Regions from separate parts of the Homo sapiens genome. Here region 1 is linked to region 2. Evidence: fine-mapped expression QTL. A gene starts in region 2. The other region holds a variant in brackets. All regions are shown on one strand. Distances are from middle to middle.

What was found. PIP is the estimated chance that this variant, and not a neighbour inherited with it, causes the effect.
Region 1: its variant is fine-mapped to the expression of TIMELESS in whole blood (TOPMed, PIP above 0.99).

The regions. Positions count from the first base shown.
Region 1 is chr12:56,401,556-56,417,824 of GRCh38, reverse strand. TIMELESS (timeless circadian regulator) reads left to right here. Exons shown (of 29, transcript NM_003920.5): 29 at 39-1,462. The coding sequence ends at 109. Among named protein-coding and RNA genes, the nearest start is that of TIMELESS, 40 kb to the left of the region's middle. RefSeq lists an enhancer at 15,956-16,269. The variant C/T (reference allele first, on the strand shown) is at 3,773.
Region 2 is chr12:56,442,684-56,458,952 of GRCh38, reverse strand. TIMELESS (timeless circadian regulator) reads left to right here and starts at 9,527. Exons shown (of 29, transcript NM_003920.5): 1 at 9,527-9,643. It overlaps MIP (major intrinsic protein of lens fiber), which reads left to right and starts at 4,296. Exons shown (of 4, transcript NM_012064.4): 1 at 4,296-4,699; 2 at 5,198-5,362; 3 at 5,801-5,881; 4 at 7,488-9,451. The coding sequence starts at 4,340. The coding sequence ends at 7,673. RefSeq lists enhancers at 9,784-9,873, 9,984-10,103, 10,126-10,646, 15,087-15,720.

The DNA of each region.
Region 1 (16,269 bases), 41 kb after region 2:
GATATTCTCTCTCTCTCTCACCCCCATCGTTCCCACAGCACCAGAGTTGGGAGCTCCAGGAATCCAAAAGAAGAAACGATACCAGATTGAGGATGATGAGGATGACTGAAGAGCTAAGAAGCCTAGGGGTAGAGATAGACACGTTTTTAGATGGTGCATTCAAGTCAGAGTTGGAAGGGTCATACAGGACCCAGAAGCTCCTCTTACTGGACAGAGCAGTAGAATCCCAGGCTCTTTCACGGATTTAGGCTGAGAAACTTCAGCAGCAGTATTGGACTTCTCTGCTGTCAGTCTTTGTTTCTCCCAGTTTTTATCGGTATGCCCCAGCAGCTCTCTGGAGATTTAGTTCTCTTCTTCTAGGAACCATTTCTTTTGGTTATTGGAGCTCCTTAGCAAATAAGAGGAGTGAGTGAAATAGAGAAAGCACCCCGGACCCCTTTTATTGGTCTGTTCCTTTGGCTTTCTCTTGGAGGTGGGTCGCAGCACCAGATGGGGAGCTTTATGACATGACAGGCGGGAGTTTTGTACCACTTTTAGAAGATACCAGATGCCTCTGTCCTCATTTTGTTTCCTATGATCATCCTCTAGATACCAGATAGAGGCCCATTCCTGCATTTGAGATAGGGTTGGAATATAGTACTCTAGATGATGAATGTGTTTGCTTTGTGTTTGGTATTAAACATGTAAGATTAGAAGTTCTCATCTCAGTCTGACTTGGCGATATGTCTAAGTTCCCCAGCCCTTCCCCTGCTGTGCTCTTGAAAGAAGAACTTAACAATTTTAGGGTAAAAAGAGACCAACAGACCGGCACAGTGGCTCAAACCTGTTGTCCTAGCACTTTGGGAGGCTGAGGCGGGCGGATCACCTGAGGTCAGGAGTTTGAGACCGGCCTGGACAATATGGCGAAATCCCATCTCCACTAAAAATACAAAAATTAGCCGGCCATGGTGGCATGCGCCTGTAATCCCAGCCACTCGGGTGGCTGAGGCAGGAGAATTGCCTGAACCCAGGAGGCAGAGGTTGCAGTGAGCTAAGGTCACGCCAGTGCATATGCCTGGGCGACAGAGCAAGACTCTGTCTCAAAAAAAAAGAAAAAAAAAAAAGACCAACAACCTTCCCTTTTCTTCCGCTTTCCCTACAGAAGACACAGAAAAGCATTTTTGCCTCTAGATCCTTTTGTCTAGGGTAAATTCTTAGGGTGACAAGAGTATGCGGCAGGAAGAAGGAGGAGCCATAAAGGAAGAGAAGCCAGCTTGTTGGCATGGGGCATAGAAAAGGACAAAATCTAGGCATGAAAAGGATGGATAAATACTGCAAATATTATGTTCTTACCCATTCTTGGAAACGTCAGCTTTCTTGCTTCCTGTGCTTCCAGCCGAGGTAGGGCAAAGGTGAGATTGAGAAAATAGCCATTCAGCTCAGGAAGGCTTCTAAGTAAAGGATGGATTTGGATTGCCCTGTTGCTTTGACTTTTCATTTTTATTTTTTCCTGAAAAGATGAGGATCTCCCATAGCCTCTAAAAGTGGGAGTGAAGCTATTTCCATGGTAATTGAAGTTTCCAAGGGCTAGACACTTTCTAGCTCTGGCCAGTCTTGGTGTCTCTTCATCCTGAGCTTTTCTTCACTTCGCAACCTGAGCACTGCTTCCTTCCAGCAGGGCTGCTCTGTTTTCCCTCCATGATCCGGGCTGTGCTGCTCCTTTGCTGTGTCCTGCTGTCCCCAGTATCTGCCTTTTTTTTTTTTTTTTTTTTTGGAGACGAAGTCTCGCTCTGTCACCCAGGCTGGAGTGTGGCAGCATGATCTCGGCTCGCTGCAGCCTCTGCCTGCCAGGTTCAAGTGATTCTCTTGCCTCGGCTTCCCAAGTAGCTGAAATTACAGGTACGAGCCACCACGCCCCGCAAATTTTTTGTATTTTTAGTAGAGACAGGATTTCACCACGTTGGCCAGGCTGGTCTTGAACTCCTGACCGAAGGTGATCCGCCTGCCTTGGCCTCCCAAAGTGCTGGGATTACAAGCGTGAGCCACCGTGCTCGGCCTAGCAGCTGCCTTTTTTTTTTTTTTTTTTCTTTTTTGTGATGGAATCTCACTCTGTCACCCGGGCTGGAGTGCAGTGGCGCAGTATCAGTTCACTGCAACCTCTGGCTCCTGGGTTCAAACAATTCTCCTGCCTCAGCCTCCTGAGTAGCTGGGATTACAAGCATGCACCACCACACCTGGCTAATTTTTGTATTTTTAGTAAAGATGGGGGTTCATCATGTTGACCAGGCTGGTCTGGAACTCCTGACCTCAAATGATCCTCCCACCTCAGCCTCCCAAAGTGCTTGAGCCACCGCATGAGCCGGTGGCGTGATTACAGGCATGAGCCACCGCATCCGGCCGTGGCTGCCTTTCTAAGAAATGTCCAGAACTGGACCCTGACTTTCCATCCCTCTTTGAAATTTCCAGCTCCAGTTTCTTCTAGCAGTGTTTATCAGTATAGAAAATTTACTATGTATTGGCCGGGCATGGTGGCTCACACCTGTAATCCCAGCACTTTGGGAGGCCGAGATGGGAGAATGACAAGGTCAGGAGATCGAGACACTGGCTAACACGGTGAAACCCCATCTCTACTAAAAATATAAAAAATAGCCAGGCATGGTGGCGGGCACCTGTAGCCCAGCTACTCAGGAGACTGAGGCAGGAGAATGGCGTGAACCCAAGAGGCAGAGGTTGCAGTGAGCTGAGATCGCACCACTGCACTCCAGCCTGGGTGACAGAGCGAGACTCCGTCTCAAAAAAAGAAAAAAAAAAAAGAAAATTTACTATTTATTAGGCACAAGAGGTATTTTTGTCCTTTTCCGTTTATTTACCCTTTGGAAATTTTTAAATGAGAAGAGGAGTAAAAAGCTATTTCTTACATATTTGAATCACAGCCGTCTGATTTCTCCTTATTCTGGGTCTCTTGGATTAAGCTGGGAATGTGGGAGCAAGAGGTAGATACTGCTTTTGCGGCATTTCTGACACCTAAACAAGCTCTGATTAGTCAGTACATATCAATTCAGGTATAGATTGGGAGAACCTATAGATCACGATGACAGTCACACATGTATGAAAGGGAGAAAGAGAAAAATTACAGTGCTACTCAGAAAATCTTGGCCAAGTTGATACAGAGCCCCAGAATGAAGATTACATGACTGAGGAGTCCCATGTCTGGCCGACTTGGCTGGGCTCTAGCACTGTCCACCTGTCATTGTCTCAGAGCAGCCTGTAGAGAGGGATGCTGCTGTGATCACTGCAGAACATTCTAAAGAGTGGAAGCTGTCGGCCAAATAGAATGTTCACTCTGTGTTCTCTTGAAGGGAGATCTGAGCAGAACACCACAGGGCAAATAGGCAAATGTTTGCCAAAATTGTGCCCTTACTGACCTTAGAGACAAGCAACTGTCCCCTCTCATGAGACAGAGAACTGGGACTGGAATAACCTACCTGGGAAAGCCCACCTCTCACTGACTACCCTCTGGTAATTTGGTGCTCTCAAATATTTAAGTAGAAAGTGAAGCAGAGGAAGGCCCTGGTGACCAGGGAATAGGAGAAGTCAAATAAGATCAGTGCGGTACCATTTCCTATGTAACTGGGCTTTAACCTAAAATGAACACAAGCCTGGAGGTAATGGGTGAGTGAAACGGTCTGTTTTCTAACTCCCACTTCAGCTGATCATTTACTGCTACATGTTGCACACACTCTGGCTGCCATTTCATATGGAACCCAAACTAAGGCCCTGATGTCCCTTGCTT[C/T]GTATTTGCAGAGCCCTGGTTCTGCCAGACCTGGCTTCCAAAGTTCCTGCCTGGTGTCTTCCATATGTCCTCTCTACCCAGGATCTAGTAGGCCCGGCACTAAGGAAAGCCCTGGAGCAGGCTGACTCCTAAACTTGATGCCAGGCCCTGAAGATTTGGCTATACAGGGTGGGATGTGTGAAAGCCACATAGTCCCATACACACCAGCTCCAAGGATTCTGGAATTTCAGTGGCATAAGGAGGAGCATGCCAGGTGATACCATGGCCTCTGTTCTGCAGGTGTTAAGACGGGCTTCAATCAGACCCAGGAAAAGCCAGATGTGTCTTTCCCACTGAGTACTGTGAGCAGGGGCAGGAATATCCTGAGCACAATGTGTTCCAGTTTTTGCCAGGAGTGGGAACCTACTCCTGGCAGTGGCAGCCCATCTGGAGTGGTCACTGCAAAGACGCCAGCTGCGGCTGGGGAGGTGTGGTGAGGGCTGCATGCTCCACAGAACCAGGGAGAGCCAGGAACAGGCAGGAGCCCCGCCCCCTTTCAAGTTGGCGGGTCCCCACCCTCCTGGGTGCAGCTACAGCAGCACAGCCACAGCTGTGGATCCAGGCATCCCTATGCTCTTAGGGGCCTACGAAGCCTCACTGCCCCCGCAGACTCAGAAGTGCATGCTCCCACTGCCTAGCCTCTTCCCACTCTGTTTTTAGAGCAAAGTTGAGGCCAAGCCCAGCACTGTTGTGACCTGGCCATGTGTGCACACCCTCCTGGCGGTGCTGACACACCAGCCCCCTGCCACCTTGGCCCCCTCTAAACTTTGTACACTGACAAGCATGGGAGAGGGGCTGAGGGGGAGCCAAGGGTGACTTGGCAGGGGTCTGCAAGTGCCCCTCAGCAGGAACAGCTTGGGTCCCGTGGATGACATTATTGATGGTGGCAGAAGGCAGGCTCCTGGGTGGAAAGGTGCAGGTCCAGTGAAGTACCACCTTTAAGCCAGGGACAGCCTGAAGCCTGGGTGCCGGACTGTCACTTCTGGGTGGAGTCCATCGCCCAGAATGAGAACTCATGATGCTTATTCTGGGCCATCCATGGCCCAATCAGCATGCACTTCCTCCCTTCTGAAGCCCATGAAAACCTTGGACTCAGCCACTCACAGAGACATTGAATCGACCTGCATGTGGAAAGGAGCTACTCACTGCCAGTCTCCTGAGGGCTGCTGTGTCGCTCAATGAAGCTCCTCTCTGCCCTGCCCTCCAGTTGTCTGTGTACCTCATTCTTCCTGGATATGGACAAGAACTCAGGACCCAAGGAATGGTGGAACTGAAAGAGCTGTAACACAAACAGGGCTGAAACACGCCTGCCGCCCCCCCCCGCCCGGCCCTGTCACTCCACTGCTTGCCACTATGTGGGCGACTAGAAGAAGAGAAGAGCTGTGGCTCTTTGAGAAGCCCAGACCCAGGGGCTCCCAGAGCCAGGGCTATGACACCCTCTTTGGGGCTCTGTGGTTCCTGGTGTCTCCAAGCTCCCAGGTGCCACCGCATTCCCTGGTGCCTGCAGTGGAAGCTGCTTGCAGTATGTCTGGTCCAGCCACAACCTCACATGGAGCCGGTGCCTGGAGCTCCCTGTCTGCTGCAGCCGGCATGCCTGGCTGTGCACAGTGTGGCCAGACCCCATGCTCACACACCCCTTGCTGCTGCACATCTGGTTCACCCATGGCAGGCATGGAATCCAGGCCAGTAGCACAAGCAGAGCACAGCCTGCCAGGCCAAGTGGGTGGAACAAACACAGTGAGCCCGAGCAACACTTGGGCAAAGGCACCACTGGCCACAGAGGTTTCCAGCTGGAAAAGTGACATCCCAAGAATCCCATGACACTACTATAAACTGGCACAGCTTTGTACTATGCTGCTCAGATAGAACTGGTCAGACAAGGCCAATGGGTCAGAGGTAGTTCTCTCTGCTAGAGGTGAGTCTCGCTGAAGAGCCATAGCTTAGAACCTGGGGCTGGGAGTTTTGTGCTATAAGAAAATTGGATAGGAATAGAAGGGATGAATTCTAATTTTTTGGCAAGCTGTATATGTGGTGTTCAGAATCCAAAATAAACATCACCTGATATCCACAGGATACACAATGATGAAAAATACAATGATTAAAAAACGTGCTGGCCAGATGTGGTGGCTCATGCCAATAATGCCAGTACTTTGAGGGGCTGAGGTGGGAGTATCCCTTTACCCCAGGAGTTTGAGACCAGCCTGGGCAACATAATGGGATCTTGTCTCCACAAAGAATTTCAAACATCAGCCAGACATGTTGGCTGAGGCAGGAGGATCTCTTGAGCCCTGGAGTTTGAGGTTACAGTGAGCTATGATTGTGTCACTGCACTCCAGCCTGAGCAATAGAGCAACACCCTGTCTCTTAACCAAAAAAAAAAAAAAAAAAAAAAAACAATTATTTTAAATGTGTTGAGGTTTCTTCTATGGCCCAGATATGGTATACCTTGGTGAGTGTTCTATAGGTACTTGAGAATGTGCATTCTGCTGTTGGAGTATTCTATAAATGTCAATTAGATGGGTTGATGATATTGTTAAGTTCTTCTATATTCTTGCTGACTTTGTACGTAGTAAGTCTATCAGTTGTTGAAAGAAGCGTGTTAAAGTCACCAACTATAATATTGGATTTATCTATTTTTTTCTTTTAGTTCTGTTATTATTATTTTTAAATAGAGACTGGGTTTCTCTTTGTCACCTAGGCTACAGTGTGGTGATGTGATCATAGCTCACTGCAGCCTCAAACTCCTGGGCTCAAGCTATCCTCCCATCTCAGCCTCCCAAGTAGCAGGACTACAGGCACCCATGCCTGGCTAATTTTTAATTTTTAAATTTTTGTTTATGTTTGTAGAGATGGGATCTCACCATCTTGCTCAGGCTAGTCTTGTACTCCTGGGCTCAAATGATCCTCCTGCCTTAGCCTCCCAAAGTGCTGGTGGTGGCAGAGGCTGCTGCCATCATGCCAACTGTGCAGCTGGGGCTGCAAACTCCATGGAGCCATTGGGAACCCTGTCCCTTCTGAGTTGGGATGGGAGCTCCTGGGGTGCCGCTGCAGCTGCCTAAACTGCAGCTGCAGATCCAGGCCTCCTGCTCTATGAAGCAGGCAGGACCCCCACCCTCCTGGGCTGGGCTACAGCCACCCAAACCGCAGCTGTAGACTGGAGCCTCTCTGTGCTGTTGTGGGAGGGCCAGGAGCAAGCAGGATCTACCTTCCCGGGTGCCGCTGCAGCTACCCTCCCAGGTGCAGGAGCCAGGTGTCTCTTCAGCTTGCACCCTTAGGGGCCCCAGGAAGGACCCTCCCTCATCCTTGCAGGCTCAGGGGTGTCTGCCTGCCCTCTCTCCACTACTGGTGCCCGCTCCAATCTTGGAGCAGGGGTTGGGGCCAAGCCTGGGGGCCATGAATGGCAGCAGGAGAGAGATTGATTCCTGGGCAGAAGGGGGTGGGTCCCCAGTAAGGCCCCCACCTTTGGGCCAGGGAAGACCTGAAGGCTGGGAGCTGGGCTGCCAGTCCCATGGACCAGAGTGGGGACTTGTGATTCCTCTTCCAGGCCTGCTCATGGGCCAATTGGCACACACTTTCTCCCCTCTGAGGTCCATGGGTTCAGCCAGAGCAGGGCACAGGATGGCCAGAGGATAAAGAAGGCAGAGATACCATGGGCCACCCTCTCCAGGGCCTTGTCTCTGCTGAGAGCTGAACACTCCACAGGATGAGCTGTCTACGAAGAGGAGCTACCCACTGTGGGTCTCCTCTGAACTGTTCTTTTTTTTTTTTTTTGACAGTCTCTGTTGCCCAGGCTGCAGTGCAGTAGTGTGATCTCAGCTCCCTGCAACCTCTGCCTCCCAGGTTCAAGCAATTCTCATGCCTCGGCCACCCTAGTAGCTGGGATTACAGGCGTGCGCCACCACTCCCAGCTAATTTTTGTATTATTAGTAGAGTCAGGGTTTCACCATGTTGGCCAGGCTGGTCTCGAACGCCTGACCTCACGTGATCCACCTGCCTCAGCCTCCCAAAGTGCTGGGGTTACAGGCATGAGCCACTGTGCCCGGCCTTCTCTGTGCTGTTCTAACACTAAATACAGCTCTTCATCTTCTTCACCCTTCATTTGTCTGCGCCCCTTGTTTTTCCTGGATTAAGGACAAGAACTCAGGCACCACGGCCACAGAGGTTTGTAGCCAGAAAACATTTACACCCCAGAGATCCCATAATATTTTGGAGGCTTGTCCGGGATTTGCAGAAGGGTGAGTAAAAGCAATTCTGTCCATTTTTTTCAGAGTCTCTAAACTCCACAATAGTAAAAATGAAGGAAAAATACCAGGCCTCTGTCAGCCAGTTAAAAGTAACTAGCACAGCTGCCAGACTTAAGACATGGAGGACAGGCTTGCCGGGGAGGACACTGTCAACCCCCCATCACCCTCGAGTATTGGGAATGTTGGCTTTGTTCCAACCCAGTTTCCCCTCATTGAGGTCTAGCTGTCGCATGGGACTGGAAGGAGGTCCTAGGGTAACAGGGTATCTGGCCGAGGCCATACCTTGGTGTTATCCAAAGGCCCTTGGACTAACTCCAGTCCCCGACTGCCCATTGGGGTGTTGACACTAGGACCTCCAATCTTTTTTATTGTTATTTGTTTATTTCTTGCTTGCTTTCTAGGCTGTCATGGTTCCTATCTCTTTTATATACAATGTTAAATTGTAACACCTGCCCCCACAGCTTCACCTGCCTGTGATAGGGCGGCAACATCCTTAAATGTTAAGGATGTTGTTGCAAACCAGAGAGATTTCTGGATAAAATGAGCATTTGGCTTAGTCATCAAGTATAAAATAGAAGGTTAAGGGTACCACAAAGCAAAGTGTGCCGTCATATCTGTATGTAAATTTGTGGTGAAAATGTTCTTGTAATTTACTTGATTGCCAATTTAGGGCCAAGCACCTTGAGGCACAGAAAAGAAGCATTGCCTCAGGAAAAAAGCTTTTCTGTAAACACGAAGGCAAATAGTCCAAGGTCCTTTATGTGCAGGCCTTTGCCTTGCAGGGTGCCCCAGACCTTTGCCAACATTGTAGAATTGATTCAGCCCTCCTAGGGGCCATCTCAGGAGAGGCTGCAAGGGGCAATCCCAGGGAACTGGAGAAGCAAATCCCAGAGTTACCTCCAGCGGGGGAATCAACTCCCTCCGCACCTCCCTATCCAGGTGCTTTTCCAAGCTTGCCTCATCCTAGAAATAATTTTAGACTGTTCCCAGTCTCACTCCTGCCCCTGCAACAGATGCCTGGTGCATATGGCCCCATTAAGGTCCAGGTCTCCTTTTCTCTTCAGGACTTAAGGCAAATTAAGGGGGATCTTGGCAGGTTTTGAGATGGCCCTGAAAAATATAAAAAGGATTTCCAGGCCGGGCGCGGTGGCTCACGCCTGTAATCCCAGCACTTTGGGAGGCCGAGGCGGGCGGATCACAAGGTCAGGAGATCGAGACCATCCTGGCTAACACGGTGAAACCCCGTCTCTACTAAAAATACAAAAAATTAGCCAGGTGTGGTGGCGGGCGCCTGTAGTCCCAGCTACTCGGGAGGCTGAGGCAGGAGAATGGCGTGAACCCGGGAGGCAGAGCTTGCAGTGAGCCGAGATCGCGCCACTGTACTCCAGCCTGGGTGACAGAGCGAGACTCCGTCTCAAACAAAAAAAAAAAAAGAAACGGATTTCCAGAACTTAACCCAAGTATTTTAGCTCTCCTGGAAGGATGGCCATGTTACTTTTGAATCAAACCCTGAACACTGCTGAAAAGCAGGCCACTCTCGTCAAGTGGCAGAGAATTTTGGGGATGAGCTTTACATCTTGTATAGGGCCAGGGAACAGGAAGAGCCTTTTCCAGTTGGAAGAATACCAGTGCCATTAGAGGACCCTAAATGGGACCCCAGTAATGAAATGGGACAATGGAAGAAGAAATTCTTTCAGGTGTGCATATTGGAGGGCTTGTGAGGGACTGGAACTGAGCCTCTGAATTGCACTGGGCTATCTGTGGTACATCAGGGATTGGATGGGAGTCCCACTGATGTCCTGGAAAGGCTAAGAGGGGTCTTGGTAAAACACACCCCTCTATCTCCTGATTCAATAGAGGGACACCTGGTCATAGGGAATGAGTTTACTACTCAGTCAGCCCCTGATATCAAGAGGAAGCTGCAGAAGCAGGCCATAGGACCAGGTAGTATTTTAGAGGACCTCCTGAAAGCGGCCACCTCGGTCTTTTACTATAGGGATCAGGAGGCCCAAGAGAAGGAAAGGAAACACAAGAAAAAGGCAGAGGCTCTAATAGCCAGCTTGCAGGCTCACAAACCACAGAGCTCCTAAGTTGTACCTGTTGACTGCTACAAATATGGACCATTGGAGGGAGGACTGTTCCCAAGACACCAGTCCCCAGGTACAGGGCTGGTCTCCCAAATGATGCAGCAGAACTGATGGGTCCCGGGGTTCCTTTCCCTGGCTTTGGTAATTTAGACCACCATTACCATCCAGGAGCCCTGGGTGATTCTGGGGATCAAGGGAAGGAGAATGGACTTCCTCCTGGACTCAAGCGGTCCTTTCAGTTCTCCTCTCCAATCTAGGCACCCCCCTCTCTTAGCATGACTGTGAGGTACATCTCAGGAAAAGCCCAACATTTTAGTTGTCACCTTGGGCCAGGTCCCCTATTCCCGAGACTCCCTTTCTCTCCCTTATTTGAGGAGGACCTTCCCCCACAGCTTCACCTGCTTGTGATAGGGAAGCAACAGAGGAGTGCCCCCTGCCAGCTGCTAGCTGCAATTTGGCAAGGGCCATCTGGGACTAATTTAAAGGGTTCATACACTCCTGAGGCATCTTCTTGTCCCAGGCTTTGGTTTGAATCCCTTGAATGGAACACTAGACCTGAGGCAGATGACAGCAGGAGTCAGGGCACAGCACAGGTGAGCATGGCTAATTCCTGCTGATTAGTCCCCCCCACTTCATGGGTGGAGTGCATCCTACATCACTGGACTCCTTTGACCCTCAGACTCTGGAGAAAGAAAAAAGCTTTTTCCCCTTCACAGGACTTCAGGGCCAATAGGGCTCCATGGCTTGGGGGAAGGGAACCCAGAAGCCTGACATGCCAGTAAAAGGGTAAAAGTTGTGGGACTTCTGGCTTCTCTCTCTCCATGCAAACTGGTTGCAGGAATGATATAAATCACTGTATTCTCTACTCCATGGTTCAGTTGGCCTTTTTGGCATGGCTAAGGTTGGGTAGTAAGATATTTAAAAGGGGCCGGGTGCAGTGGCTCACGCCTGTAATCCCAGCACTTTGGGAGGCCAAGGTGGGTGGATCACTTGAGGTCAGGAGTTCAAGACCAGGCTGGCCAACATGGTGAAACTCTGTCTCTACTAAATATACAAAAATTAGCTGTGTGTGGTGGCATGCACCTGTAGTCCCAGCTATCTGGGAGGCTGAGGTATGAGAAACGCTTGAACACAGGAGGCAGAGGTTGCAGTGAGCCCAGATTGCACCACTGCACCCCAGCCTGGGCGACAGAGTGAGACTCTGCCTTAAAAAAGAAAAAAAGATTTAAAAGGACTTCTTTAAAAGGAGCACTATGGTTAAAAGTTAGCTTAACTAAAAGTAGATGTTCATAGATATCCAAGCTTTAGGTATACTTAAAAGGCCTTTATGTCATTTCTCTGTTTTTCTGGTGAAGGGTCTTTTCTTCTCAGTCGACTGAATTATCTTTCTCCATTCTTGTCTTGCCACTCTTGATGCGCACATGAGGAGCCCCAAGATATCCTCTGATGGCCTGGGACTCCTTGGGAAAATGAAAGAGGTGCCACTGACCCATTTTGGGAAAGACTTCTGTTTTCCTCATGGAGCCCCAGGAATTAGGAGCAGATGGATCCCTCTCAAAATGTTTTTGTCTTCCAGTTATGCATACTTATTAGGCCATAGAAACTACATGTTTTCCTGGCCCTGCTTCTTAAAGGGCTTAACCCCAGGGCCAGCAATGCAATTAGGAGATTGGCACATGAAAAATCTTAAAACTACTGGATCTCTGTCTGTTTCTGTGTGGATATATATGTGTCAGGTGTGTCATGTTTATATAAAAGAGCTCTAACTGATTGGCTTAAAGGAAAATAAGTGTTTAAATCAAATATTTCGAAAGAAAAATAAAGCTGTAATGCCTTTTAGTTCATGGCTATCACTCTAGTGGAACAGGAAGCATGAGAAAGTATGGCCTTACACAGCTCATAGTAGGCCGTTGCCTCTGGAGGGAAAACGTAAAGTGGCACTGGTGCCCACCTAAGGTCAGAGTAAGACTGGATCCCAAAGGGGGATGCTCCAGGGGATCCTCTGGACTTCCACCTCTCCAAAGAGGATGCTTTTGGCAGAGGTTCTGAGGTCTACTAATAAGCCCTCCTTAGAACTTTTTCGCAGTTGCAATACTGTTTGGCCCCAGTATTGCATGGAATCTGGAGTTACTGCTGAAAGGGAAAGTGGGATGCCATTGCCTGTATCCAGGCTTTTATGCTGTTGTTCTAAGCAGGGGGCCTGGTTAGCCTGTGATGCTCTCCTTTGGTGCTGTTTGACCCCAGTGTTCTTTGAAGTCTGGGGGAGTTTGGCCTTTAAATATCAAACTGCCATGGAAACTGCTTTACCGGAAATTTTGTTTCACAGTTGTATTAGGGATATATATATACAGCATTTAGGTATTGTTAACTATGCAATAATATTGGGGTTGGTGATTGGTGCATTTCTGGTTGTGGGAAGGATAGTTGTATTATGTTAGGCACAATTATTACCTTATTATTGTCTTTATTCGAAAATTATATATGATCTCAGGAGATGTGTACATATATATGTACATATATGTGTGTATATATATGTGTATATATATATATATGCGTTTACTAATTATTAACTTATATGATCACAAGGTCCCATGATAGGCTGTCTGCAAGCTTGAGGAGCAAGGAGAGCCAGTCCGAGTCTCAAAACTGAAGAACTTGGAGTCCGACGTTTGAGGGCAGGAAGCATCCAGCACAGGAGAAAGATGTAGGCTGGGAGGCTGGGTCCATCTCACGTTTTCACATTTTTCTGCCTGCTTTATATTCACTGACAGCTGATTAGATTGTGCCCACCAAATTAAAGGTGGGTCTGCCTTCCCCAGCCCACTGACTCAAATGTTAATCTTCTTTGTCAACATCCTTGCAGACACACCCAGGATCAATGCTTTGCATCCTTCAATCCAATCAAGTTGACACTCAGTATTAACCATCACAAGTCCACCGCTTGTCAACTTGAACCCATACACATCTCCTAAGATCATACATAATCTTCGAATAAAGCCAATAATAAGGTCATAATTGTGCCTAACATAATACAACTATCCTTCACATAACCAGAAATGCACCAAACCCCAACCCCAATATTATTACGTAAAGTTAACAATACCTAAATGCTGATAGGACAACAATAAATTTTATGTCACATGATAAAGGAAAAGGAAATAAAATGAAGATATTTTCTTAGTACAAGTGTTTACATGCATAAGCGTGTTTTTAACAAAAGGAGAAAATACTCATGACAATTACAGTCCTTGTTTCTGCAACTGGTCACGTGGTCATAGCTGGTATTGATGACTACCTTCTTCTACTACCCATTCTGTATTCCCTTTGCCTTCAGCAAGCACCTCAGCAGGTCATGGTTTTTTTCCTGGTGGAATGACCCAAACCTTTATTCCTGAGGGGTCTGGACTGTTTGTCATCTGCCTGGATTGGGGTATTGTAGTTTCCCATTGACTTTAATCATGGGGCATGGTAATACTAAGAGGTGCCCTAATGGATCTCCTATATTCCATGCATACTCTTTCTTATCTATGTTGTGGAGTAGTAGACTGATTTCATCTTGATAGTGCGGGTCAATCACCGCAGCCAACACTGTAATTCCCTTCTTAGCCTGTTGACTTAAAGGTAGGAGGAGCCCAAAGTGTCCAGTTGACAATCTTAACTTCCAATTTAATGGAATCATTGTGTCTACTGGTGGCAGCATTCCTCCCTCTGGAACTAAGACATGTAGCCAGCAGAACTTAATGTTGCAGGAACAGGAAGCAAAAATTTTGCTAGTGGGTCACTGGGGGTGATGGTGAGTGGTGCCACTTCCACTTCCACCCCCTTGATTCCTGAACCTGTGAATCCTGGCTATGGGAGAAACTAACATATATTGGATGCTGATTCAGAGCGTACATGGCCTTCTGGACAACTTTGCCCCAGCCCTGCAGAATATCGTCACCTAGTTGGTGTTGTAATTATGACTTAAAAAGGCCATTCCTCCATTCTGTCAATCCAGCTGCTTCAGGATGATGGGGAACATGGTAAGACCCATGAATTCCATGAGCATGAGCCCACTGCTGCACTTCTTTAGCTGTAAAGTGAGTGCCTTGGTCAGAGGCAATGCTGTGTGGAATACCATAATGATGGATAAGGCATTCCGTGAGTCCACGGGTGGTAGTCTTGGCAGAAGCATTGCGTGGAGGATGGGTAAACCCATATGCGGAGTAAGTGTCTATTCCAGTGAGGACAAACCTGTGCCCTTTCCATGATGGAAGAGGTCCAATATAATCAACCTGCCACCAGGTAGCTGATCACCCTGAGGAATGGTGTCATATCAAGGGCTCAGTGTTGGTCTCTGCTGCTGGCAAATTGGGCACTCAGCAGTGATCGAACGCAGGTCAGCCTTAATGAGTGGATGTCCATGTTGCTGAGCCCATGTGTAACCTCCATCCCTGCAACCATGGCCAGTTTGTTTATGGACCCATTGGGCAATGACAGGGGTGGCTGGGGAAAGAGGCTGAGTGGTGTCCACAGAACAGGTCATCCTATCCACTTGGTTATTAAAATCCTCCTCTGCTGAGGTCACCCTTTGGTGAACACTCACATGGGATACAAATATCTTCAGTTTTGACCACTCAGAGAGGTCCATCCACATACCTCTTCCAAGTCCCTGACCATCCAGCCAAACCATTGGCTAACAGCCGATGAATCAGTATATAATCGCACATCTAGCCATTTCTCCTGCCATGCAAAGTGCACAACCAGATGCACTGCTCAAAGTTTTGCCCGCTGGGAAGATTCCCCTTCACCGCTGTCCTTCAGGGATGTCCTAGAAAGGGGCTGTAGTACTGCAGCTGTCCACTTTCGGATGGTGCCTGCATACCATGCAGAACCATCTGTGAACCAGGCCGTAGTCTTCTCTTTCTCTGTCAGCTGATCATAGGGCACTCCCTGTGAGGCCATCAGTGCAGGCTGGGAAAGAAAAGGCAGGGTGGCAAGAGTGGAGACCATGGGCATTTGAGCCACTTCCCCATGTAACTTACTTGTGCCTTCAGGACCTGCTCTAGCCCGATCACATATATGCAACTTCCATTTGATGACAGAATGCTTCTGTGCAAGACCCACTTTATGGCTAGATGGATCAGAAAGCACCCAGTTCATGATAGGCAGTTCAGGTCGCCTGGTGACTTGATGACCTATAGTCAAACGTTCAGTTTCCATCAAAGCCCAGTAACAGGTCAAGAGCTGTCTCTCAAAAGGAAAGTAGTTATCGCCAGAAGATGGCAGGGCCTTGCTCCAAAATCCTAGAGGCCTCCACTGTGATTCACCTATGGGGGCCTTCCAAAGGCTCCAAACAGCATCTCTATCTGTGACTGACAGCTCAAGCACCATTGGATCTGCCGGGTCATATGGCCCAAGTGGCAGAGCAGCTTGCACAGCAGTCTGGACCTGTTGCAGAGCCTTCTCCTTTTCTGGACCCCACTCAAAACTGGCAGCCTTTTGAGCCACTTGATAAATGGGCCTGAGTAACACACCCAAATGAGGAATATGTTGCCTCCAAAATCCAAATAAGCCCACTTGGTGTTGTGCCTCTTTCTTGGTTGTAGGAGGGGCCAAATGCAGCAATTTATCCTTCACCTTAGAGGGAATAACCCCTGAATTTTAGTCAGACTTATTTCCCATCCTCTAGCACACAAATGTCTCACCAATAAGTCCAGTGTGTTTGCTACTTCTTGCTCACTGGATCCAATCAGCATAATGTCATCAATGTAATGGACCAGTGTGATATCTTGCAGAAGTGAAAAGTGATCAAGGTCTCTCAATAAGATTATGACACAAAGCTGGAGAGTTGATATACCCCTAAGGTAGGACAGTAAAGGTATATTGCTGGCCTTGCCAGCTGAAGGCAAAGTGCTTCTGGTAGGCCTTATGGACAAGAATGGAGAAAAAGGCATTTGCCAAGTCAATGGCTGCATACCAGGCACCAGGAGATATGTTAATTTGCTCAAGCAATGAAACCACATCTGGTACAGCAGCTGCAATTGGAGTCACCACTTGGTTAAGCTTACAATACTCCACTGTCATTCTCCAAGATCCATCCGTCTTCTGCACAGGCCAGATGGGAGAGTCGAACAGGGATGTGGTG
Region 2 (16,269 bases):
CCTCAGCCTCCCAAGTAGCTGGGATGACAGGTGAACACCATGACGCCTGGCTAATTTTTTTGTGTATTTTTAGTAGAGATGGGGTTTTGCCATGTTGGCTAGGCTGGTCTTGAATTCCCAACCTCAGATGATCCGCCCACCTCAGCTTCCCAAAGTGCTGGGATTACAGGTGTAAGCCACCGCACCCAGCCAAATTTTCAATTTTTTTTGAGACAGGGCCTGACTCTGTCACCAAGGCTGGAGTGCAGTGGTGCCATCTCAGTCCACTGCAACCTCTACCTCCCAGGCTCAAGTCATCCTCCCACCTCAGCCTCCCCAGTAGCTGGGACTACAGGTGTGTGCCATTGTGCCTGGCTAATTTTTGTATTTTTTGTACAGGAGGGGTTTTGCCATATTGCCCACGCTGCTCTCTGACTCCTGAGCTCAAACGATCCTCCTACCTCAGCCTCCTGATTTGCTGGGACTACAGGTGCAGGTAGCTCCTGTTTTTAAGTGCTTTATTCTGTGCCAGACACTGTACTAGTCTCTTTACCTACATTATCTTATTTGATACAGAGGAAACTGAGACTCAGAAAGCTTATGCTAATCTGGCCAGGTGCAGTGACTCAGGCTTGTAATCCCAGCACTTTGGGAAGCCTCGGCAGGCGGATCACTTGAGGCCAGGAGTTCGAGATCAGCCTGGCCAACGTGGTGAAACCCTGTCTCTACTAAAAATACAAAAATTAGACAGGTGTGGTGGCGTGCACCTGTAATGCCAGCTATTTGGGAGGCTTGAACCCAGGAGGTGGAGGTTGCAGTGAGCTGAGATGGCACCACTGCACTCCAGAGTGAGAGACTCTGTCTCAAAAAAAAAAAAAAAAAAGCAAGCAAGCTTATGCTAATCTAATCTATTCGGCAAATATTTATTTACTGCCTTCTGTGTGTTAAGCACCAGGTTCGCACTGGTGAAAAATCAGACATGGGCCCTGCCCTCCTGGAACCTATATATAGCGGGGATAACTTGCCCAACTAGAAAGTGGTAAAGCATATATTGTTGTCACTGCTGTTTTTAATTAATTTGGGGTACACAGAATATTTTGTTGTTCATGATATCCTCTCCTCATTGGCCTATATATATGGCTCCCACTTATTTGTTTTTAATAATGATAATTAAGCATCATTTCTAACCATCCATCCAATAGAAAAACTAGAACCTTGACAATTACTATTATTTTATTTTATTTTATTTTATTTTTGAGACTGAGTTTCGCTCTTGTTGCCCAGGCTGGAGTGCAGTGGCACAATCTTGGCTCACTGCAACCTCCACCTCCCGGGTTCAAGCGATTCTCCTGTCTCAGCCTCCCGAGTAGCTGGGATTACAGGCACCCACCACCATGCCCGACTAATTATTGTATTTTTAGTAGAGATGGGGTTTCACCATGTTGGCCAGGCTGGTCTCCAACTCCTGACCTCAGGTGATCCGCCTGCCTCAGCCTCCCAAAGTGCTGGGATTACAGGCATGAGCCATTGCCCCCAGCCAACAATTACATAAAGTTACACGATGTGCTACCCAAGTTTCTCGTGGGTATATAAGTGAGAAGTGGAGTTGCTGAGTCAGAAATTATGTAATTTGACCTGGCATGGTGGCTCACACCTGTAATCCCAGCACTTTGGGAGGCTGAGAGGGGCAGATCACTTAAGGTCAGGAGTTTGAGACCAGAGTGGCCAACATGGTAAAACCCCGTTTCTACTAAAAATACAAAAATTAGCTGGGCATGGTGGTGGGCACCTATAGTCCCAGCTACTTGGGAGGCTGAGACATAAAAATTGCAGAGGTTGCAGTGAGCTGATTGTGCCACTGCACTCCAGCCTGGGCAACAGAGTGAGACTCTGTCTCAAAGAAAAAAAAAAGAAATTATGTAATTTGTTCATCTTTATAAGTAGGTGTTAAACTGTGTCCCAAAGTCATTATCTCAGGTGGGGAACAGTGCCTCACGCCTGTAATCTCAACACTTTGGGAGGCTGAGGTGACAGGATCACTTGAGCCCAGGAGTTTGAGGCCAGATTAGGCAACACAGTGAGACCCCATCTCTACAAAAAATAAAAAAGTTAGCTGAGCATGGTGGTAAACACCTGTAGTCCCAGCTATTTGGGAGGCTGGGGTAGGAGGATCGCTTGAGCCCAGGAGGTTGAAAATGCAATGAGCTGTGATTGCACCACTCGACTCCAGCATGGGTGACAGGGTGAAACCCTGTCTAAAAAAAAAAAAAAAAAAAAGTAATATCTCAGTTTATACTCCCACCAGCAGTTGTAACTGGTTCTTTTTTTTTTTTTTGAGACGGAGTTTCGCTCTTGTTGCCCAGGCTAGAGTACAATGGCGTGATCTCGGCTCACCACAACCTCTGCCTCCCGGGTTCCAACGATTCTCCTGCCTCAACCTCCCGAGTAGCTGGGATTACAGGTACCCACCACCATGGCCAGCTAATTTTTCGTATTTTTAGTAGAGACGGGGTTTCATTATGTTGGTCAGGCTGGTCTCGAACTCCTGACCTCAGGTGATCCACCCGCGTTGGCCTCCCAAAGTGCTGAGATTACAGGCGTGAGCCACCGCACCCAGCTGGTTCTGTCACTTTTTATCCTCACCTAATTGGACCAGAGTATCTGTGGCCAAAATCTCTGCTCTTAACACCATGATGTGCTACCCTCTCTCTTTATCCTGTCCAGGGGAACTTTTCTGGAGGCAGTGTGAACCCTGCATGCTTCCTGAGGCCAGCAGTGGTGACTGGGATCTGGGAGCATTACTGGGTGAGATGCACTGAGGGTTACAGGGCCTTAAGTCAGGAGACTGATGAGGCTTCTAGAATATAGGAGATTCCAATGACTTCTAGTGGACTGTTTCTCTTCTATGTAATTGAGAGCTCCAAACCCTTTGGGTGCTCTCTGACCTGTTCTCAGCAACTCTTCCTGCCAGTGGATAGGTTAGATGGACCCTCTACCTTCACTATAACTCTCTTTCTGTCCATCCCCAAGCTGGGTATTATGAGGAGAAAGCACAGCCCCTGATCTGTGTTCCTTCTCTCTCCCCACAGGTGTACTGGGTAGGACCCATGCTGGGCACCATTCTTGCAGGCCTCACCTCGAATTTCTGCTCTCTGGTGCTTCATGAGAAAAGTTTGTGGCCGGTATGACTTGCCACTATGTGGAGATGGTAGAACCTATCAGTATGTCCCATTCTACCTTCTCCATCACCACACAACCCCACGCCTAGGTCCCAAGTCCCTCACCAAGCCCGAGCACAACTGAACCTCTTTCCCCAAACTTTCCTTCCCCATATTATCCTTTTCCCTCTCTTTGATCGGCTGTTTCCCCAGATCTGATCCCAGCACACCCATACCTTTCCCTGGGGATCAAGGCTTAGGGTGTGCTGATCATGGCTGTATTAAAGGACATTAGACCTTCCCATTGCTTCATAGCCATGACTGTTTCCTTCCTTTCAGTACTTCTTGCTATGACCATGTGAGTTAGGAAAGATGAAATACAAGCTGATTCTAAGGTTTAACTACGAGTCCCTTTCTTATTCCTATCCCTCCAACCCCACTCCCAGCCCATGCAGGGATGATAGTGTCTTCTCTCTGTCGGTCCCTGTAGTTTAAAAAGCCAGGCCTAGGGTTTGAAAAGGGAGGTGCTGTCATGGACTGGGGGTAGGGAACCCGGGCTCAGAGAAAGCCAGACGCAGCAGAACTATTTTGTCCCAGAGCTGCAGGGTCCACAGATTCCAGCCCAAACTAGCCAATGGGAGAAAGGCTTCTAATCCCTGGGAACTAAAGAATTCTCTTTAGTTATCCAACTTCCCTGCTGAACCCCACTCCTTACCACTCCCCCCAACCCTTACCCCTGGCAGACTCAGAGGAGGCTGAGGCCCCCAGGAGCTCAGCCCCAAATGCCATGAAGTGAGCTCAGCTTGATGGACCTTCCAAAGAGAGCTGAAGAGTATTCTAATGTTGATGTCAATCAGGACAATGAACCCCAATTTTGACACACACAGAAGGGCAGACTCTTCCAGTCCTGCTGTTCTTCACCCCCACTTCTCGTAGTCTCTCTTGCTGTGACCCCAATCCCACCCTCACTGCCATGGCTCTCTCGGCTCATCTCCCAGTTGAGAAAGGCGGGAAAATCCAGCATTTTTACCATGTAGGGGAGGGGACTTAGCCCTCCACAGCTGTGAAGGGGTTAAGAGGCTGGGCCTGCTACCTCAGCCTGCCCCTCCCAGGGATTAAGAGTCCTCTATAAAGGGGACTGTCCACCCAGACAAGGCCATGGGGGTAGCAGGGACCCAGGCACTGTGACCATCCCCCCTGCCATGTGGGAACTGCGATCAGCCTCCTTTTGGAGGGCCATATTCGCTGAGTTCTTTGCCACCCTCTTCTATGTCTTCTTTGGGCTGGGGTCCTCACTGCGCTGGGCTCCTGGACCCCTGCATGTTCTGCAGGTGGCTATGGCATTTGGCTTGGCCCTGGCTACACTGGTGCAGTCTGTGGGCCACATCAGTGGAGCCCACGTCAATCCTGCAGTCACTTTTGCTTTCCTTGTGGGCTCCCAGATGTCCCTGCTCCGTGCCTTCTGCTATATGGCAGCCCAGCTCCTGGGAGCTGTGGCTGGGGCCGCTGTGCTGTATAGCGTTACCCCACCTGCTGTCCGAGGAAACCTAGCACTCAACACGGTAATGGTTGGCTGAGAGGGGATGGGGAACCTGGTGTCCTGTCTCTCTATTGCCCTGACTCCCTGACTGGTGCAGGTGAATCAGCTCCCCTGGGGTCTGGGACAATATGTGCATGTGTGAGCATGTGTGTGTTGAAGTGGTGAGGATTGACAGGTGGTTTAGAGCTTTAAGGAAGGCATAGGGCCCTGGACTGAGAATTAAGAAACCTGAGTTTGAGTTTCAGCTTTCCTTCCAACTCCTTGCAGGTTCTTAAGGAAACTTATTTTACCTTTCAAGGCCTCAGTTTCCTCATACATGTAAGTGGCTGCAATCATTTCCATCATGAAGGAGCACTGTTAGGAGATGGTAAGATGCAAATACAATGATTATGAAGGGGGTTGTATTATCCTTCCTCTCCACGGACCTGATGCCGTAACGAGATCCTTGCCGGGGAAGTCTTGAGGAGGTAACACTGTGGCAGCCCTCCTGAGCTGTCTCTCTTCTTCTTCCTTTGCACAGTTGCACCCTGCGGTGAGCGTGGGCCAGGCAACCACAGTGGAGATCTTCCTGACGCTCCAGTTCGTGCTCTGCATCTTTGCCACATACGACGAGAGGCGGAATGGCCAACTGGGCTCCGTGGCCCTGGCCGTTGGCTTCTCCCTTGCCCTGGGGCACCTCTTTGGGGTAAGCAGGAAGGAGAGCAACTTCTCATTCAAGGATTCCGGGGCCCCTAAACCTTTCCCAACTTTTAAGGGTTCTTCCTGCCTACTTCACTGTCAAACATGAACATTGTCCATTGCACTCTCTACTGGCACAAAGGAATCAACTCTGCCCTATCCCTCTCTTGTGACTGCTATATCTAGTCCTTCTTGACCCCAAGGTAGAAATGAACGTATCATGGCTAGACATGGGCTTTGCCTATGGATCCATAGTCTGTTCCCAGACAGGGCATCAGTTGCCCTCACCCCATTGCAGGAACCCCTGGAGAGTCATGCAGGCTGTCCCTCTCCACTTGCTGCTGGCTGGAGAAAAGATGGCAGCTCTCAGGGGCAATGTGGGTTGTGGGGAGAGAAGCTGGGGTGCAGTAGGGGGGTGTCTCAGTTACAACTGTCTCTTTTGCAGATGTATTATACTGGTGCAGGCATGAATCCTGCCCGCTCCTTTGCTCCTGCCATTCTCACTGGGAACTTCACTAACCACTGGGTGAGTGAAGGGAGAGGGGCAAGATCCTGAAGCCCTTCTGGATGGTTGTGGACTGCAGGTTCCAGGCTGGATTCCTGCTTTCCTTCTGCGTGTGTTGGCTGCTGTACCAGCACTCAGCTAAGGGGGCTGTCAGAGAGTTTGGCATGCCTGTGTGAGCAGGATTCATGATTTTGCTAGAAGGAGAGGCTCTTGCTCATATTTTTCCTTCTCTGGTTAGTCAGGGAGTATGCACTGAGTATTCACTGGTTGCTGAACTAGCGGGTATGAAGAGAGACAACTAAATATGAGCAGAATAAATTCTGCTCTCAGAGATCAAGATGTGTTGTGAGCACAGATGGGCCTCAGCCCCATTCCAGTTCTAATACGTTATCGGCTTTGTGTGTGACCATGGGCAAATAATCACTCTGTGCTTCAGTTTGTTTTACTATAAAATGGGACATTACGAGAAATGTGTGAAAGTTATATGTGAGAAACATTTAGCACAGAATCTGATATAAAGTAAGCACTCAATAAATATTGGTTATGTTGATGTTGTGCAAGCCAAACATATGGAAATAATTTAAAAATTTTTCAAAGCTGTACACCCATTTTCATAACAGCATTATTCACAATAGCCAAGAGGTAAAAGCAACCCAAGTGTTCCTCAGTGGATGAATGGATAAACAAAATGTGGTATATACATAAATGGAATATTACCTGTAAAAAGGAAGGAAATTGTGACACATACCACAACATGGATGAATCTTGAGGACATTATGCTAAGTGAATAAGCCAGTCACAAAAAGACAAATACTGTATGATTACATTTATATGGGGTATTTAGAGTACTCAAATTCACAGACGCAAAGTAGAAGGATAGTTACCAGGGGCTGATGGGGGTGGGGTGGAATAGGCAGTTGTTTAATGGGTATAGAGTTACAGCTTTGCAAGATGAAAAAGTTCTAGACATAGGTTGCACAACAATGTGAATATACTTAACACTACTAAACTGTACACTTAAAAACATATATATATTTTTTTGAGATGGAGTCTCCCTCTGTCACCCAGGCTGGAGTGCAGTGGAGCTTGATCTCAGGATCTCAGCTCACTGCAACCTCCGCCTCCTGGGTTCAAGCAATTCTCCTGCCTCAGCCTCCTGAGTAGCTGGGATTTCAGGCGCCTGCCACCACGCCCAGCTACTTTTTGTATTTTTAGTAGAGATGGGGTTTCTCCCTGTTGGTCAGGCTGTTCTCAAATGGCTGACCTTGTGATCCGCCCGTCTTGTGATCCGCCCGTCTCAGCCTCCCAAAGTGCTGGGATTACAGGCATAAGCCACTGCGCCTGTCCAAAAATATTTAATATGGTAAATTTTATATGTGTTTTACCACAATGTATAAAATTTTTTTGAAAGCAACATACAAACTAGTGCAAATTGATAACAAATAGAATATACACATGCTAAGGTGTGGGATAAAGGAGTAATTTGATGAATCAGAAAATAAATGGTGAGTTTATTGTAGATATCAAGTGTACAATATCTTGTTTTCCACTAAGGTGGCTGGAAAAAGAGCAGCGTTGCTACTCTGTCCCCTCCCCAAGCCTGAGTATTCCTTTTCTCTTTCTACAGGTGTACTGGGTAGGCCCAATCATTGGAGGGGGTCTGGGCAGCCTCCTGTACGACTTTCTTCTCTTCCCCCGGCTCAAGAGTATTTCTGAGAGACTGTCTGTCCTCAAGGGTGCCAAACCCGATGTCTCCAATGGACAACCAGAGGTCACAGGGGAACCTGTTGAACTGAACACCCAGGCCCTGTAGAAGCTCCAGCTGAATAGAGGGAGTAGAAAGCTTCTGAGTTTACGTGGAGGGGTTTAGCCAGCCCCTAGATGAAGAAAGAGACTGTGGGGAGGGTCATGTACTTCTTTATTTTTTAACTTATGTATGTGGTTGTTTTTTTTTTTTTTTTCCTTTTGCTGTGTGAAATCTTTCAAGTTGCATTCATGAGCTGGTTGGTGCAAACTTCCCTTCCTCCCCATCCCACCACCCTTCGCCGTGTGTGCTGATTGTGCATATGAATGTGAGTGTGGCTGTGTCTGAGTTTTGGGGCATGAGAGCTAAGGAAGCAAAAAGAGGTGCCATCCTATACCTCCCTTCCTCGACCCAGTATGGTGAGTACTGGGTAACCGACACCTTAAGTTTCTGGCCTTTACCCTGCTGCCAGTCAAGTGTGTGGCTCTTGATTTCTGAGGGAACAGAGAAGCAGGGAGTTACTCCTCACACGAGGCAGATGGAGAGAAGTGGAGGAGACAAGGCTTCCAAGGGTTAGGAGAAGGGACTCAAGGGAGGTGGGTGGTGAAAACGGAGTATTAGCCCCAGATCAGGATGTAGGTGTACCGAAGAATTGGGGGGAAGTTAATGGGAATATATAGCCTACTTATCTTAGGGATGCTTGCCCCAGGGACTTGGGTGGGGAAGTAGCTCTGAGAAAAGTGAACACTAGGATTTAGCTGTTCTGTAAAGCCACGTAAACCTGTCTACATCCGCTGGCTGGTTGTGTTCATTCTGACATAATGGATCTCTTCAGAGGTCCTGGGCCAAAGAGCTTCCAACCTAAATAGAGCTTGGGCAAGCCTAGAATCTAGAAAAATTAAGCAGCTTAACTGGTCAGCCTGACATCCACTGTTGTGGCTGCCTGGCAGATGGTATTTAAGCCCCACAATTGTTCCCTAAGGCCAACACAGGAAATCTGATTCCTGGAGCAAATAAATGAACGGGTGGTAGTAGGGGGCATGAGGGGAGAGGCTTTGACTCTGTTCTAATTTATTTAGAGCAAATCAAAACACTCCTCAAATGGCATCTTTCTGCTTTTATCACTAGTTCCGTGTTTTTTTTCTTGTTTTGTGTCTGTGTATTTTCATTTCTCTGTCATCCGTCCTTTCATCTTGAAGCAAATCTCTTCTAACTCCCTCATACCCCAGAAATTGATTCCTTCTATTCAAATGCTTAATAATTCAGGAGATTATTATTTGTTTGAGCCCTATCTTCTTTTTTTTTTTGAGAGGGGGTCTTACTATGTTGACCAGGTTGGAGTGCAATGGATATTCACAGGCACGATCATCGCACACTACAGTCTAGAAATCCTGGGCTCAAGCGATCTTCCTGCTTCAGCCTCCCCAGTAGCTGGGATTACAGGGGGCCAGAGCACAGCCCTATTTTCTTTTCCTTTTGGCAAGATCATCTCAGCAGAGGCCAGAAGAGACCCTCAACTGTTCAATGAATATTTACGGTTGCTTTCTTCCTTTTATGAGCCTCTTGCATACTTTGAAAGCTTTAAATTTATACCTATAATACAACGGACATCCCCTATCCCAGAAGACCATTCCTCCCTGTACTTCAGCTCTTTACTTCCTCCCAAATAAAACCTAACTTTTCTAACTAACTATTTAAGACTTGGAATAGTCCGCTTGACTAGAAGAAGGGGAAGAATGTTTGTAAATTCACCTCTAATCGGACTTTGATTCTACTATAATTCAGCAGAAAATTCATAGCGCTGTGATTTTTAGATCGACCTCACATAAAACAGTCCCTGCACTCGCTTCCCTTTTCCTTCCTTCTTCACCAATCTCCGCCCCAGTTCGCTCGGAGTCACGTGGACCAGCCCGGCTCGCCCCGCCTCGCTCTTCGCGCAGGCGGGGACCGGTCCAGCTGAGCCTGGTGGCGGAAAGGCTGCGGCCCCGCGCCAGAGGGCCGGTGGCTCCTCCGGGCTTCTGAGGACCCGCAGGGAGCGGGTGAGTGAGTGTGTGGCGAGAGGGCGCTAAGCGGACACGGGGATCCTTTCGAAGCTATGGGGGCATTCTCGGGAAACGCTGAGTCCCTTTTCCCGCCACCCGGTTTAGAGCCAGGGGGCGGGGCTCGTGCTGCAGGCGCGCACGCGCAATTCTGTACTCTGCTCCTTAGTCTCCCGCGCCGCGTTCCCGGGTCTCACCGGACGCGGGCTTAGCCCTACGCTGCTCCGCACAGCTTGGGTCTCCCGCGGGATGGGGTTGTGATGGAAAGGGGCTTGGAATTCCTGAATTAGAACAGAAAGTGCCTGAGGGAGTTCCACTTCGGAGCTTAGCATCTAGTTGAGACCTCCTGAAAAAAACCGGTGTGTGGCCTGGCGGTCAGCAGTGGTCGGAATTCACAGGCCGCTTTACTTATATCGTGGGTTTTATGGAACGGATTTCTCACTCCCTCCCTTCGTTGCCTTGTTCGGGTTTGTCACCTGGACCTCAGCCGCTAATGAAGCTTTTTTCCTTGAGCCTCTCAATTCTTTGCCATTCGTGCTTCGACTAGTACTTTCAATTTTTTATTTATTTTATTTTATTTTGAGACGGAGTCTCGTTCTGTCGCCCAGGATGGAGTGCAGTGGCGCCATCTCGGCTCACTGCAACCTCCGCCTCCCGGGTTCAAGCGATTCTCTTGCCTCAGCTTCCTGAGTAGCTGGGATTACAGGCGCGCGCCACCATGCCCGGCTAATTTTTGTATTTTTTTTAGTAGAGATGGGGGTTTCACCTTATTGGTCAGGATGATCTCAAACTCCTGACTTCGTGATCCGCCCGCCTCGGCCTCCCAAAGTGCTGGGATTATAGGCGTGAGCCACCGCGCCTGGCCTGTTTGTTTTTTTTGGTTGTTTTGTTTTGTTTTGTTTTTGAGATGGAGTCTGGCTCTGTCGCCCAGGCTGGAGTGCAGTGGTCCGATCTCGGCTCACTGCAACCTCCGCCTCCCCAGTTCAAGCGATTCTCCTGCCTCAGCCTCCCCAGGAGCTGGGATTACAGCTGCCCGCCACCACGCCCGGCTAATTTTTGTATTTTTAGTAGAGATGGGGTTTCACCATGTTGGCCAGGCCGGTCTCGAACTCCTGACCTCAAATGATCCGCCCGCGTCGGCCTCCCACAGTGCTGGGATTACGGGTGTGAGCCACCACACCCGGCCCTACTAGTACTTTGTACAAAGTAAAGGTAGATCATCTGATGTTAAATTTAAAACTCCTCTTTGACCACCCACAGTTAGCCTTAAATCCGTAGGTGGGTGTCTGTGGCCTCTCAGTCTGGCCCTGACCCTCTCAATCTCATTTTGTAAATCTCTTACGCACCTGACTCCTGGCCACGTGGAAAGATTGTGGCTGCCCTCTTTCATATCTCAGTACTTAGTTCCTGCTGTTCCTTCTGCTTGGAAGATCTTGACACTGCTCTGCCAAGCGAACTTCTCTTTGAAGACTGAGCTTAATTGTCCCTCTGAAAATCAATGTATCCAGCTTCCTATGCCAAGTTAGTCACTTCTTCCTGTGTGTCCCTGAAGTTTTTTACCCCCCTCTATTACCAGGGGCACTGATACAGCTCAATAAAAGATCAATAAAAGGTTACTGAGCTCCTAACATGTACCATGCACTGTGCTTAGCGCCAGGCTTACAGAGATGAGTAGGATGGAGAGTTCCCGACCCTTAAGGAACTCAAGTCCTAAGGAAAACACATGTAATTGAGTCTTCTGTGGTTACAGTGAAAGGGTCATCAAGAAGTCCTTCCTGGCTTCCTTCCTCCTCTCACTGCACTCACACCATCTTACATCCTGATGCCTCCAAATCTTTAGCTCCAAACTCTTCTCCCTCATCTTCCAGACTTCTCTGTTTCAGTTCAATTTAGTAAAGCATTTATTGAGCACTTACATTGTGCTGCGTAATGATGATTCCTGATGTGAAAGAGTTTACGTTTTCGTGCAGTTAACATAGGATAGTTAGAATCACCTGAGGAACATTGTCAAAACACTTGCCTAAGCCCCATCGCTGGAAATTCTGATCCTGTAGCAAGGCTCTGAAAGTTCAAGGGTGAATAAGAATTCCTATCTCTACTAAAAAAAAAAAAAAAAAAAAAAAAAAACAAAAATTAGCTGGGTATGGTGGCATTTTCCTGTAATCCCAGCTACTTGGGAGGCTGAGGCAGGAGAATCACTTGAACCCGGGAGGCGGAGGTTGCAGTGAGCCGAGATTGCACCATTGCATTCCAGCCTGAGTGACAGAGTGAGACTCGTCTCCAAAAAAAAAAAAAATAAAAAGAATTCCTGTCCTCAGGGAATCTAAGGCTAATGGAGGGAGATAGACTTTGATTTTAACTATTATATACAACATGAATTGTAAGTACCATGTTGGAAGTCTGAATATGGTACACAGTAGACATTAAGGAAAAGGAGGTCACTTCTGTATGGAGAAGTCAGGAGGAAGTCCCTTTTGGGCAGTCTTTTTTTTTTTTTTTGAGATGGAGTTTTGCTCTTATTGTCCAGGCTGGAGTGCAGTGGCGTGGTCTCCCAGGTTCAAGCGATTCTCCTGGCTCAGCCTCCCAAGTAGCTGGAATTACAGGCACCCACCACCACACCTGGCTAATTTTTTTTATTTTTAGTAGAGACAGGGTTTCACCATGTTGGCCAGGCTGGTCTTGAAGTCCTGACCTCAGGCGATCCATCCGCCTCAGCCACCCAAAGTGCTGGGATTACAGGCATGAGCCACTGCGCCTGGCCTGCACAGAGTCTTCAGAGCTAAGCTGATATTTGGATGGGAGGCCATTCTAGATAGAGTAGTGGCTTGAGAGAGAAGCGTGAGAGGTAAACAGGAGAGAGATTCATGAAAGACTTTGTATTGTAGGCACTGGAGGTCACTGAAACTTTAGTTTTGTATAGTAATGCATGCTAATAGTAAAGAATTCAAATAGTACCAAAGGGAAAGACAAATATTTCTCCTATCCTAGATCCCCTAGTTCTCAGAGACGATCACTATGAAGTTTCTTATGTATCCATTGAAGTGTTCTAAGCAGGATTGTTATATGCCTAAATCAGGTAACCATATTGAGGCTAGATTGAACAAGACTGGAGGCAGCTGCATTCATGCCTGTAATCCCAGCACTTTGGGAGCCCAGGTGGGTGGGTCGCTTGAGCCCAGGAGTTAAAGACCAGCCCGGGCAACATGACAAAACCTTGTCTCTAGAAAAAATACAAAAATTAGCAGGGTGTGGTGATGTACCCTATAGTCCCAGCTATTTGGGAGGCTGAGGTGGGAAAGTCACTTGAGCCTGGGAGGTTGAGGCTGCCGGGAGCTGTGATTGCACCACTGCACTCCAGTCTGGGTGACAAAGTGAGACCCTCTTTCAAAAAAGAAAAAAAGTCTGGAGGCAGAGAAAGAGGATAGGAAGAGGTTGAGTAACCTAAGCAAGAGCTACTCAGGAACTGAACTAAGGCAGTAGCAATTGGGATAGAAGGATAGACAGCAACTGATAGAAGAACTTAAGGAAGTTAAGTGAGATGGAGCTAAGGTGACTCCTAGGTTTCTTTTTTTTTTTTTTGAGACAGAGTTTCGCTCTTGTTGCCCAGGCTGGAGTGCAGTGGTGCGATCTCAGCTCACTGCAACCTCCGCCTCAAGCGATTCTCCTGCCTCAGCCTCCTGAGTAGCTGGGATTACAGGCATGCACCACTACACCCAGCTAATTTTGTATTTTTAGTAGAGACAGGGTTTCTCCATGTTGGTCAGGCTAGTCTTGAACTCCCGACCTCAGGTGATCCACCCGCCTCGGCCTCCCAAAGTGCTGGGATTACAGGCATGAGCCACCACATCCAGCCTCTTTTTTTTTTTTTTTTTTTTTTTTTTTTTTTTGACGTGGAGTTTCGCTCTTGTTTCCCAGGCTGGAGTGCAATGGTGCGATCTCGGCTCACCGCAACCTCCACCTCCTGGGTTCAAACAATTCTGCCTCAGCCTCCCAAGTAGCTGGGATTACAGGCATGCACCACCACACCCAGCTAATTTTGTATTTTTAGTAGAGATGGGGTTTCTCCATGTTGGTCAGGCTGGTCTCAAACTCCCAACCTCAGGTGATCCACCCACCTCAGCCTCCCAAAGTGCTGGGATTACAGGCATGAGCCACTGCGCCTGGCCCTAGGTTTCTTTTAATAAGGTGAAACTCTTAGCCTTCTTCACTGAGGAGATAGTGTCAGTCCTTGAGAGAGCCAAAGTGGAGACAGACTTGGGAAGATGAGTTCAGCTTTAGACCTATTGAGTGTAAGGTATCTTTGAGACATAAAGGTAGAGAATGCTATTCAGTTAGTCAGTTTAACATACGAGATTGTCAACTCAATAGCTCAGAGGGGCCAGAAATACAGATTTGCTGGCTTCTGGCTTGGGTGGTAGTTGAAGTGCATGGGAGAGGGTGAGTTTGCCCAATCAGGCCGCGTACAGTGAGAAGGGAAGAAGGCTAAAGATGCAGGCCTAAGGAAAATCAGCACTTAAGTAGGAGGAGGAACAGCCAATAAGAGATCAAAGGGGAAAGTTTTATTTTATGTTGGATTTTTCCCCCCTTAAGATGAGCTAGGACAGGTGTGGGGGCACATGCCTGTAATCCCAGCACTTTGGGAGGCTGCGGTCGGAGGATAGCTTGAGCCTGGGGGCTTGAGGCTGCAGTGAGCCGAGATCGCACCACTGCACATCACTACACTTTTGAGATACTGCCTCAAAAGAAAAAAACAGATGGAATAGCCTTGAGCAACTCATAATATATGGGGATGGGGCTAGTATAAAGGGAAGGTTGGAAATAAGGAATAACCAACTAAGGGACAGGAAGTGATTAATGAGGATCACAGAGTACTTAGATTAGAAGCAAAGAACTAAGGGTGGGTGTTTGAAATATGTATGTTTTTAGGCTTGGGTGGAGAGAGTTGAGAGAGTTCATGTCTGATAACCTCAATTGTTCCTAACAGGAAGGAAGCAGATAAACCAGGTGGGAGGCAAGGAAGCAGTAGAGTGAAGGGGCTTGAGGATAATGATGAAAGTTAGGAATAGTGGTTCTTTGGGAAGAGACAATGAAGGGGACCAAGAATACAGAAATGAGGCTGGGCACGGTGGCTCATGCCTGTAATCCCAGCATTTTGGGAGGCCGAGGCAGGTGGATCACGAGGTCAGGTGTTCCAGACCAGCCTGGCCAACATGGTGAAACCATGTCTCTACTAAAAATACAAAAATTAGCCAAGCGTGGTGGCGGGCACCTGTAATCCCAGCTACTTGGGAAGCTGAGGCAAGATAATCGCTTGAACCCAGGAGGCGGAGATGCAGTGAGCCGAAATCACGCCACTGCACTCCAGCCTGTATGACAGAGCAAGACTCTGTCTCAAAAAAAAAAAAAAAAAAGAATACCGAAATGATTTGCTGGACCAGGCTGAAGGCCCTGCTCAGGTTGCAGGCTATACATGTTATCGGGGGAACCAGCCCCCAATATTTCAATGTAGGTTCTTTTCTATTTTCCCTAAGTGTCAGCTGGTCTCATAAATAAAGAGAAAGACTACAAAGAGAAGAATTTTACAGCTGGGCCTCTGTGGGTGCCATCACGTATTGGTAGGACCATGATGGCGACTTGAGCCGCAAAACCAGCAAGTTTTTATTAGGGATTTTAGAAGGGGAGGGGGGTACGAATAGGGAGTGGATCACAGAGATCACATGCTTCAAAGGGCAATAAAAGATCACAAGGCAAAAGGGCAGAGCAGGATCACAAGGCAAGGGCAAAATTAGAATTACTGATGAGGGTCCATGTCCCACTGGGCACACATTGTCTTGATAAACATCTTAACAGGAAACAGGGTTTGAGAGCAGAAAACCAGTCTGACTAGAATTCACCAGGCTGGAATTTCCCAATCCTAGTAAGCCTGAGGGCACTGCAGGAGACCAGGGCATATTTCATCCCTTATCTCAACCGCATAAGACAGATAATCCCAGAGCAGTCGTCTATAGGCCTACCCCTGGGAATGCATTCCTTCCCCAGGGTTATCAATTATTAATATTCCTTGCTGGGAAAAGAATTCAGTGATATTTCTCCTACTCACATGTCGTTTATAGGCTCCCTGCAAGAAGAAAACTATGGCTCTATTCTGCCTGACCCCCCAGGCAGTCAGACCTTATGGTATCTTTCCTTGTTCCCTGAAAATCGCTGTTGTTCTGTTCTTTCTCAGGGTGCCCTGATTTCATATTGTTCAAACACACGTTTTACAAACAATTTGTACAGTTAATGCAGTGATCACAGGGTCCTGAGATGACATACATTGTCAGTTTATGAAGATGACGGGATTAAGAGATTAAAGACAGGCATAGGAAATTATAAGAGTATTGATTGGGGAAGTGATAAATGTCCATGAAATCTTCATAATTTATGTTCACAGATTGCAGTAAAGACAGGCGTAATAAATTATGAAAGTATTAATTTGGGGAACTAATAAATGTCCATGAAATCTTCACAATTTATGTTCTTCTGCTGTGGCTTCAGCCGGTCTCTCCATTCGGGGTCCCTGACTTCCCGCAACATCATCTATCTTATATCACTATAGAGGGTCGTTTGGTTTTCTCCAGCACATC